2 linked regions of the Homo sapiens genome follow. The protein of the gene in region 1 purifies or fractionates together with the protein of each later gene. This does not show direct contact. Each region holds a gene or a part of one and is shown on either strand. Other genes may lie near its edges.

What was found. Proteins that work in one complex are often made in the same cells at the same time.
Region 2: the proteins of NUMA1 (region 1) and EPB41L3 purify together in Homo sapiens (affinity purification with mass spectrometry; 3 studies listed by BioGRID and IntAct, with this or other methods). This does not show direct contact.

The regions. Positions count from the first base shown.
Region 1 is NC_000011.10:72,017,849-72,021,598, forward strand, and holds part of NUMA1 (nuclear mitotic apparatus protein 1), read right to left. Parts: intron 3,444-3,750; coding exon 3,356-3,443; intron 3,072-3,355; exon of another isoform or gene 2,478-3,071; intron 1,770-2,477; coding exon 1,646-1,769; intron 1,162-1,645; exon of another isoform or gene 1,133-1,161; coding exon 975-1,132; intron 666-974; coding exon 548-665; intron 453-547; coding exon 335-452; exon of another isoform or gene 1-334. UniProt on the Homo sapiens protein: Microtubule (MT)-binding protein that plays a role in the formation and maintenance of the spindle poles and the alignement and the segregation of chromosomes during mitotic cell division.
Region 2 is NC_000018.10:5,425,329-5,429,078, forward strand, and holds part of EPB41L3 (band 4.1-like protein 3), read right to left. Parts: intron 3,138-3,750; coding exon 2,985-3,137; intron 1-2,984. UniProt on the Homo sapiens protein: Tumor suppressor that inhibits cell proliferation and promotes apoptosis. Modulates the activity of protein arginine N-methyltransferases, including PRMT3 and PRMT5.

The sequences.
Region 1 (3,750 bases):
CCCCATCACCCAGAGTCAACGCTGACCCCACCACTGCTGTCTGCTCCCAGAACCCCAGGGGCTGGATGCCTCCAATTATCCTGCCAACCCTCTACAAACCAATCACAGCCATCACACCTCTAATTCAGAACTACAAATCAACATTTAGGGTCACAGCCCAGTACCCGGGAAGCCGCCAATTATGGGATAAGGAAAGGGGCAAAATATGCAGGTCTCTGGAGAGACTGAAGCATAAGACAGGTGCTGGGACATTCTTCTCAACCCTCTCTTGGGGAGCCTTCCAGACCACCTCAGCCCTGAGGGGCCTCCATGCACACACCACCTTAACACCCACCTTAAAGGAAAGGTCTCCATTCTCCTCCGAAAGCTGGTTGATTTTGCGATCCATCTGGCTCTTCTCTGTCTTCAGGTCCTGGCACTGCTTCAGGGTTTCATGCAGCCGCATGGTAAGGCTGCGAGGGAGGGAAGCAGTGAGAAGAGAGTATGGGTTCCTGGCTGGGTGAGGGGAGGGGCTGGGGCCTGGGAAGGAATGCAGGGAGAGCTGTACCTCTCATTCTTGTCACGCAGCTCCTCAAGCTCCTTGGGCTCCAGTGGGCTGGCCGCCTGCTTCTCATTCAGCAGGGCTAGGCGGTCAATGCGCTGCTGCATCATGGCTATCTGTGCATCTGCCCAGAGTGGAGGGAGGAGGAGAGGAGAATCAGAACTATGTGCATGAGCGGAACTATGTGCACAGAACTATGTGCACAAGGGGAAGGGAGGAGACGGCATAGGGAAGAGGAGGAATATGGTATCCAATCTAAGGGAAAGAGAAGATGGGGACAAAGACAGAACCTAGCTTCCAGGAGGTCAGCCTGACCACAGGCCCAGGGCTGAGCTCTCAGCTCCAGGGGCCAGCAGAGGGGACAACATGGGAGGCCAGGGGACATCCTTCCGGCAAGTCTATTCACACATCTGCCAGTGTGCCAGCCACCTACCCTTCTCGGTGAGGAGCTTGCGGTTCTCAGCTAGCTCCAGCTCCAGCTCATCCCTATTACTTCTCTCATCAGCAAGCTGCTTCTTCAGCCGTCTCATCTGGAACTGTGGGGTCTGCAGGATATCACCCATGGGAGAAGCTGGAGAACCTGAGAGAAAGCTGAGGAGGGAGAAGGCCCATATGCATTGGTAAGCGCCTAAGATCTGAAGCAATCAGCAACAGGCAGCAGTAAGGGAGCGGGGTCTATGGAAGTGCGCACTAGCAGCTGGGAGGCCTGTGCACCTGGGTTGTTTGCAGTGCTACCTCAAGCCTCATGACATGATCTTGGGAAAACTTTTCTTCTCACTGCCTTAATTTCTTTGTCAGAAAAAAAAAAAGTGATATATTCTCCTTGGCTCTGCAGAGATGTGCTAAGAGAAGAGACTTCATTGTAGTCTCCGAGGAAGAAGGGTATTCCATAAACAGGGAACAGCTTTTGAGGGAGGCCTTCTGCACATGACAAATCCCAACCACTTCCCCCAGTTAATACTGGGTGAGGTGAGGAGATCCCAGATCTACCGGATACTCTAAGCACTCCCAGAGGCTGGTTAACATCTTAACTCTAGAAGTTAGGAATGTGAGGAATGGATGGATGCTGAGGCCCTATCCCAGGAGGAGAGGCCCAGAACATACTTGTTCCCACTGGAAGAGGAGGCAACCTTCTGTAGCTCTAGGAAGCGAATCTCCCTCTTGGCCTGGTGGCTAGGTGGGGAGAGCTCTTCAGGGAATGTGCTAGAACAGGTAGAAGGCACAGGAGCTGGGGGTAAGAAATAGACAAAATAAATCAACAAAGGTTAGTAAGAAGGTGTAAAGATTTGCACCTTTATGCAATTTGAGAACTCGCCTTAGTGGGAGTATATCCATGGATACTTATATGTAAACTACCAAGGAAGGCACTGGGCAGAACCTGAAACCTGGTGCCTGGGTTATCCAGAGTTCCGTGTCTCTAACCAAAATGAAGTGCAGGGCTTCCATTTCTACAGAGCATCATTACTCAGAGCACAGTGGAGTGACGGTGTCCTCTGGCTCAGAAACTGCACCAAGTGCTCAAGCTTTTTCCTCGAGTCCACACTGCAGAGACGGCTTGGGGAGCCCTGAGCAGGATCTCCTTGCAGCCCCCAACAACCTTTCCTATCAGAGCCATTGGCCACCATTTGGAATTCATCCCCCCTGAAGCCTTGCACCTCCAAAATGCCCTCCTCCTCAAAACCCTTCTCTTTCCGTGGTTTCCGTGACCCCTTTTGTAGGACTCTCCTACCTCTAATCACCCATTCTTAAGTCTCCTCATCTGCTCCTCCCTCCTCTACCCACCCTCTAAGCTCCCAGAGATCTGATGGGGCCTCTTGGCTCTGCCCATAGTGCCCACGGCTTCAGTGGCCATCCAATGCTGACTTGCAAACCTATCTTCTGGTCCAGAGCCTGCTCCTGAATTCTGGACTCACATTTCTAACATCTCCACCTGAAGGTCTCATGAGGAACCTGAATACAAGGAACATCAAACTCAACGGCTAGAACTCGCCTAGACCTCCTTCTTACATTCCTATCATCCACCAGCTGACCTCTTCATCAGAAGACCAGCAGAACGATCACTCTTTCTACTGTAGTACCAGCCGAGGCCATTGATATATTCCGTACTTAGATTCCTTATCATTATTTCCTGGTTTATGTATCTGCCTTTCCACCTAGAACATGCACTACATGACGGGAAAAACATTTTTTAAAAGACTGTGGGCCGGGCGCAGTGGCTCATGCCTGTATTCCTAACACTTTGGGAGGCCGAGGCAGGTGGATCACCTGATGTCAGGAGTTCGAGACCAGCCTAATCAACATGGTGAAACCCCGTCTCTACAAAAAATACAAAAATTAGCCAGGTGTGGTGGCATGCGCCTGTAATCCCAGCTACTCGGGAGGCTAAGCAGGAGAATTGCTTGAACACGGGAAGTGGAGATTGCAGTGAGCTGAGATCGCACCACTACACTCCAGCCTGGGCGACAGAGAGAGACTCTGTCTCAAAAAAAAATAAAAATAAAAATAAAAAGACTGTATTCTCAGCTTCTAAGCCTAGAGTAATGATTGTTTAAAAAATAAAAAACAAAAGTAGGTATGATCACTTGTAAATATCCTACATAACTGCTGCCAGGCAGCAAGGAGGAGCTCCATAGGAACTGAGATGATACAACATGGCCCAGAAATCGACCTACTCCATTACACACACTTTTCCTGAGCATCAACTCTGCCTTGTGTTGGGGACAGAAACAAACCCCCACCATACTTGACAACTCAGGATCCTAGTATTCCCCATTTCAGAGATGAGGGGATTCTCAGGAGTGTGTACCTACTTACCTTTCTGTAGGAAGTTCTCTAGGTCCTCATTAAGGTTTAGCCCGTCCTCATGGTCCAGCACAAATTTAAGAATGACAGCCAACTCAGCCTGGGCCACAGGGAGAAAAAGAGCATCACTTAGGTGTTAGGCCTCTGAAGGGATGGCTGCCAGGAGCTCCACCCTGGCAGTGCCAGTCCCCGGCTCCCTCATGCCCTAGGAGCCTGCTGGATCCCATTCTCCCTCTCAGAGCTGAGGTCCTATGACCCAGCCAACAACATTCAACTAGAGATATGTTCACCCCACTTGTCCCCTTCCCTCCCACCTCCCCTCAAGATGTACCGAAGTCAGAGTTCCTGACTGACTTAACTCCTGACCACAAGTGAAGTGACTGTTAAGGAAAGTAACACAATCAGAA
Region 2 (3,750 bases), on another chromosome or scaffold:
GCCTTTCCCAACTTCTTATTCACTCTGGATGTTCATGTGCAGTGGTGTTTGTAAAAATCACTACTGTCTAAGGGACTCAGCCAAGACAGACATAGTGTGGCTTGTGACTAAATCATCATCCATTTATTCATCCTGCAACTAATATGCACATATTACGCCAATGCCAGGGGTTATATGGAAGAGTCAGCTTGCACTCTGCTGCAAGAAGCTGGGAAGAGTCTCTGCCAACCTCTGTAGGCAAGGATGATGCAGGCTCCTAGACTACCTGAATAGGTATTAATAGTTTATTAATATCTATTTCTCTGTGTTTTATATCAATTTCTTTCAACTTCTTCAGAGTCTGTGTGTCTCCAATTTCTTCTCACTCACTTTTCTCAGGCTGTAAATAGGATTGTAAAAGCAGAGAGAAGAGGAGTGAAAAACCAGCTCTCTCTGAGCCTGCTTATGCCAGCACCACAACCCCATCTCACTCCTCACTGCTAAACTTTAGGAAGCAGAAGCCACGACCTGCTGCCTCTGCTACCTACTCCTGACCTCAACACACCTGGCAGGTGCTCCTGTTGCCCTTCTGAACTCTGAAATGTCATCATGGGGCCTGACTGTTAAGTTCAACACACTTTTGTTAGTCCACATCCTGCGTGCCCTTTCTGTAACATATGATACTGCTAGCTAACCACTTTCCTCTGAAACTCATCTCCTGGTCATCCATCAGCCTGTTTCTTCTTTTATTTCTCTGGCTGTCATTTCTTCAGCTCCTTGGCCCTTTCTCAAATAGTGGTATTATCCAGAGTTCTAGTTTTGGGCCTTTTCTTTCTCTAACTTGCCTTGCTCTTTGAGTAATTTATTCCATGTCTAAGGCCTTGAATAAAATATATACAGTTGATAACTCTGTTCAACTCCTTCCTATGCAAGAGTTACTCCCTGAAAATCTGTTTCAAAGGGATTTCAGTTGTTTTTCTGAAATTTTCCCCCTTTTCCCTCCTGCCGAATGTCATCTCCATTGGCTTCAATCATGCAAACTGAAAACCTTTGATTATCCTGGACTTTTCCCTCTTTTAATTACTTCCTCTATCCTGTCTCTACGACCTGCTGCTTCTGCCTCTGAAACCTCTCTCTTGCATTTGTTCCCTCCCGTCTATTCCCACAGCCTCTGCCCTAGTTTAGGTCTTATCACATCATGTTTCTAAGTCGTTGAATTTCATTAAGAAATGTATCATTCCAAAATATTCACCTAGTTGTGTCACATCCTGATTTAAAACCTCCCATGACTTACTAGTTGTCCACTGATTCATTTCTCTAGCTCTCCCCTCTGGCATCTCACAATACTATGCTCACTCCATGTCTACAGAATATCATCTCATTTGCATCATGCTGTTACAATCAAAGTATATGAGTCCGTTTTTCTGCTAAATAGAAAATCCCTTAACAAGGAACAAGGTCATATTTGTCTTTAGATTTCTAATGTCTGACAATAAATAGGTGCTCACTTAACAAATGTTCAATGAAGTCAAATGACTATCTATTGGCTATAAGTTTAATATACAATCTTTAGGAAATATTTTTAAAACACTATAATTTTAGTTATTTACATGAAAAGCTTACAGATTATTTCAGTTATCATAGATAGGTATGATGTTATGTTCATACTAAACATCATTACATGCTTTATGTTTCAATTTTTTTGTTATTTTTGAGACAGGGTCTTTGCTCTGTCACCCAGGCTGGGGTACAGTGGTGTGATCAAACTCACTGCAGCCTTAAATCCTTGGGCCCAGGTGATTCTCCCACCCTTGGCCTCCCAAAGTTCTGGGATTACAGGCATGAGACACCATGCCCAGCCGATATTCTGATTTTTTAAATTGCATTTTCCACCAAGAAACTCCAGTAGAGAAGTAGATTTTGAAGATAAGAGATAATTCTATATCATATCAGAAAATGTTCAGAGATATAAGTATGCTAGAATCTTTGAGCTTTGACTGCCTCTGTTATACTAACCATACCAATTAGAAATTTGAGGTATTTATTAACTATCTCTTAAGTAAATAAGAGTAGATATGTGTTACTATTATGTACAAACCACTAAGGAAGATATAAACGTAAGTTGATCATGGAGGCTGTTGTCCAAGGAGTAAGGACTAGTTAACAATTCTGATTGTCTCATTAGCTTCTCTGACTTAAAACAAACAAACAAACAAACAAACATATATTGAGCTATAGAACATTGATATAATTCACACTAATTGTCCTTTGTTCTAATATTCCTTGTACCTTGAAGTACAGGACCTCTAAACTGTTCACTTTAAAGTACAACCAGATTTGCAGGACAAACAGAAAGAGCATGGAGAAATAACAACAGCATGTGGAGGAAGAGATTTATCCATTACTGCTTGAAATATACACAAAATTATTAATGATACTGGAATTTTTTTTTTTTTGAGACGGAGTCTCGCTCTGTTGCTCAGGCTGGAGTGCAGTGGCACGATCTCGGCTCACTGCAAGCTCCGCCCCCTGGGTTCACGCCATTCTCCTGCCTCAGCCTCCCGAGTAGCTGGGAATATAGGCACCTGCCACTACGCCCGGCTAATTTTTTGTATATTTAGTAGAGATGGCATTTCACCGTGTTAGCCAGGATGGTCTCGATCTCCTGACCTTGTGATCCACGCCCCCACCCCGCCCCCGGCCTCCCAAAGTGCTGGGATTATAGGCGTGAGCCACCGCACCCGGCCGAGACTGGATTTTATATTAAAATATGTTTTTAAAAACCCTCCAATTAACGTATGCAGTAGGAAATATTGGAACAATATAATAAAGAAGAGAATATTTATTACTGTTTATTGGGCAAACCTACAATAAACTCTCTCAGGCACTTAGATGTCATTCACTGTGTCCCACAATGCTCAGAACTCATAAGCAGATAATTTAAATGCTTGCTTGCTATCAGGGATCTTTCCTCCCAACGCACAGGCAAATGTGGGTATACTTACCTCTCCCGGCCGGATCTTAATGTAAAAGTTGTTCCGTTTGTATGAAATCTTTAGAACCTTGGGCCAGGCAAATCTGTTTATTCGCAGCCGGTCGCGATATATCAACAGACCACTTGCACAAACTCCTAACATAATTTCTACCCCTTCTGAGTCCTGGAAAATAAAAGCAAGAAACAACAGATCAGTATCTAACTTATTTCCATTTTCTGCTGGGTAAAGTATTTAAGCATCCACGACAGAAACTATAAATGGCTGGTTTACTTATGCAAAATGATGCAGCCATTTTTAAAACATTACCATTAAACATTAGCCTTTTGGTGAAGATGTTTATCACTATGGAGAGGTTTGTTAGAATAAAATCTGCTCTCCCAGGTGTCTCAGACTTACAAAGTAAATACTGCACACCAAGAGGGCCCAGCTCATGAAGGTATGTTAATAACGGTAATAATAGTAGCCACAGTTCTCACTTGTCAATTGCCAGGCACTGCTCTGCTTTACATATATTAACTCTTTTAATATTCACTGTAATTGAGATGGTCACTATTATTATTCCCATTTTACAGATGAGAAAATAGGTACAGAGTTCCAGCTGAACACAGCCTGGTTCCAGAGGCAGCACTCTTAACCAACACGTATGCTAACAAGATGGACCCTGTCTTTTCCTATGAGGGTTTTGGTTGTTGTTCCTTTAAAAAGAGCCCCGATATTTTTTATATACCATTATTGTCAGAGTAAAATTTAAATACGAAATAGTTTTTTTAAAAGT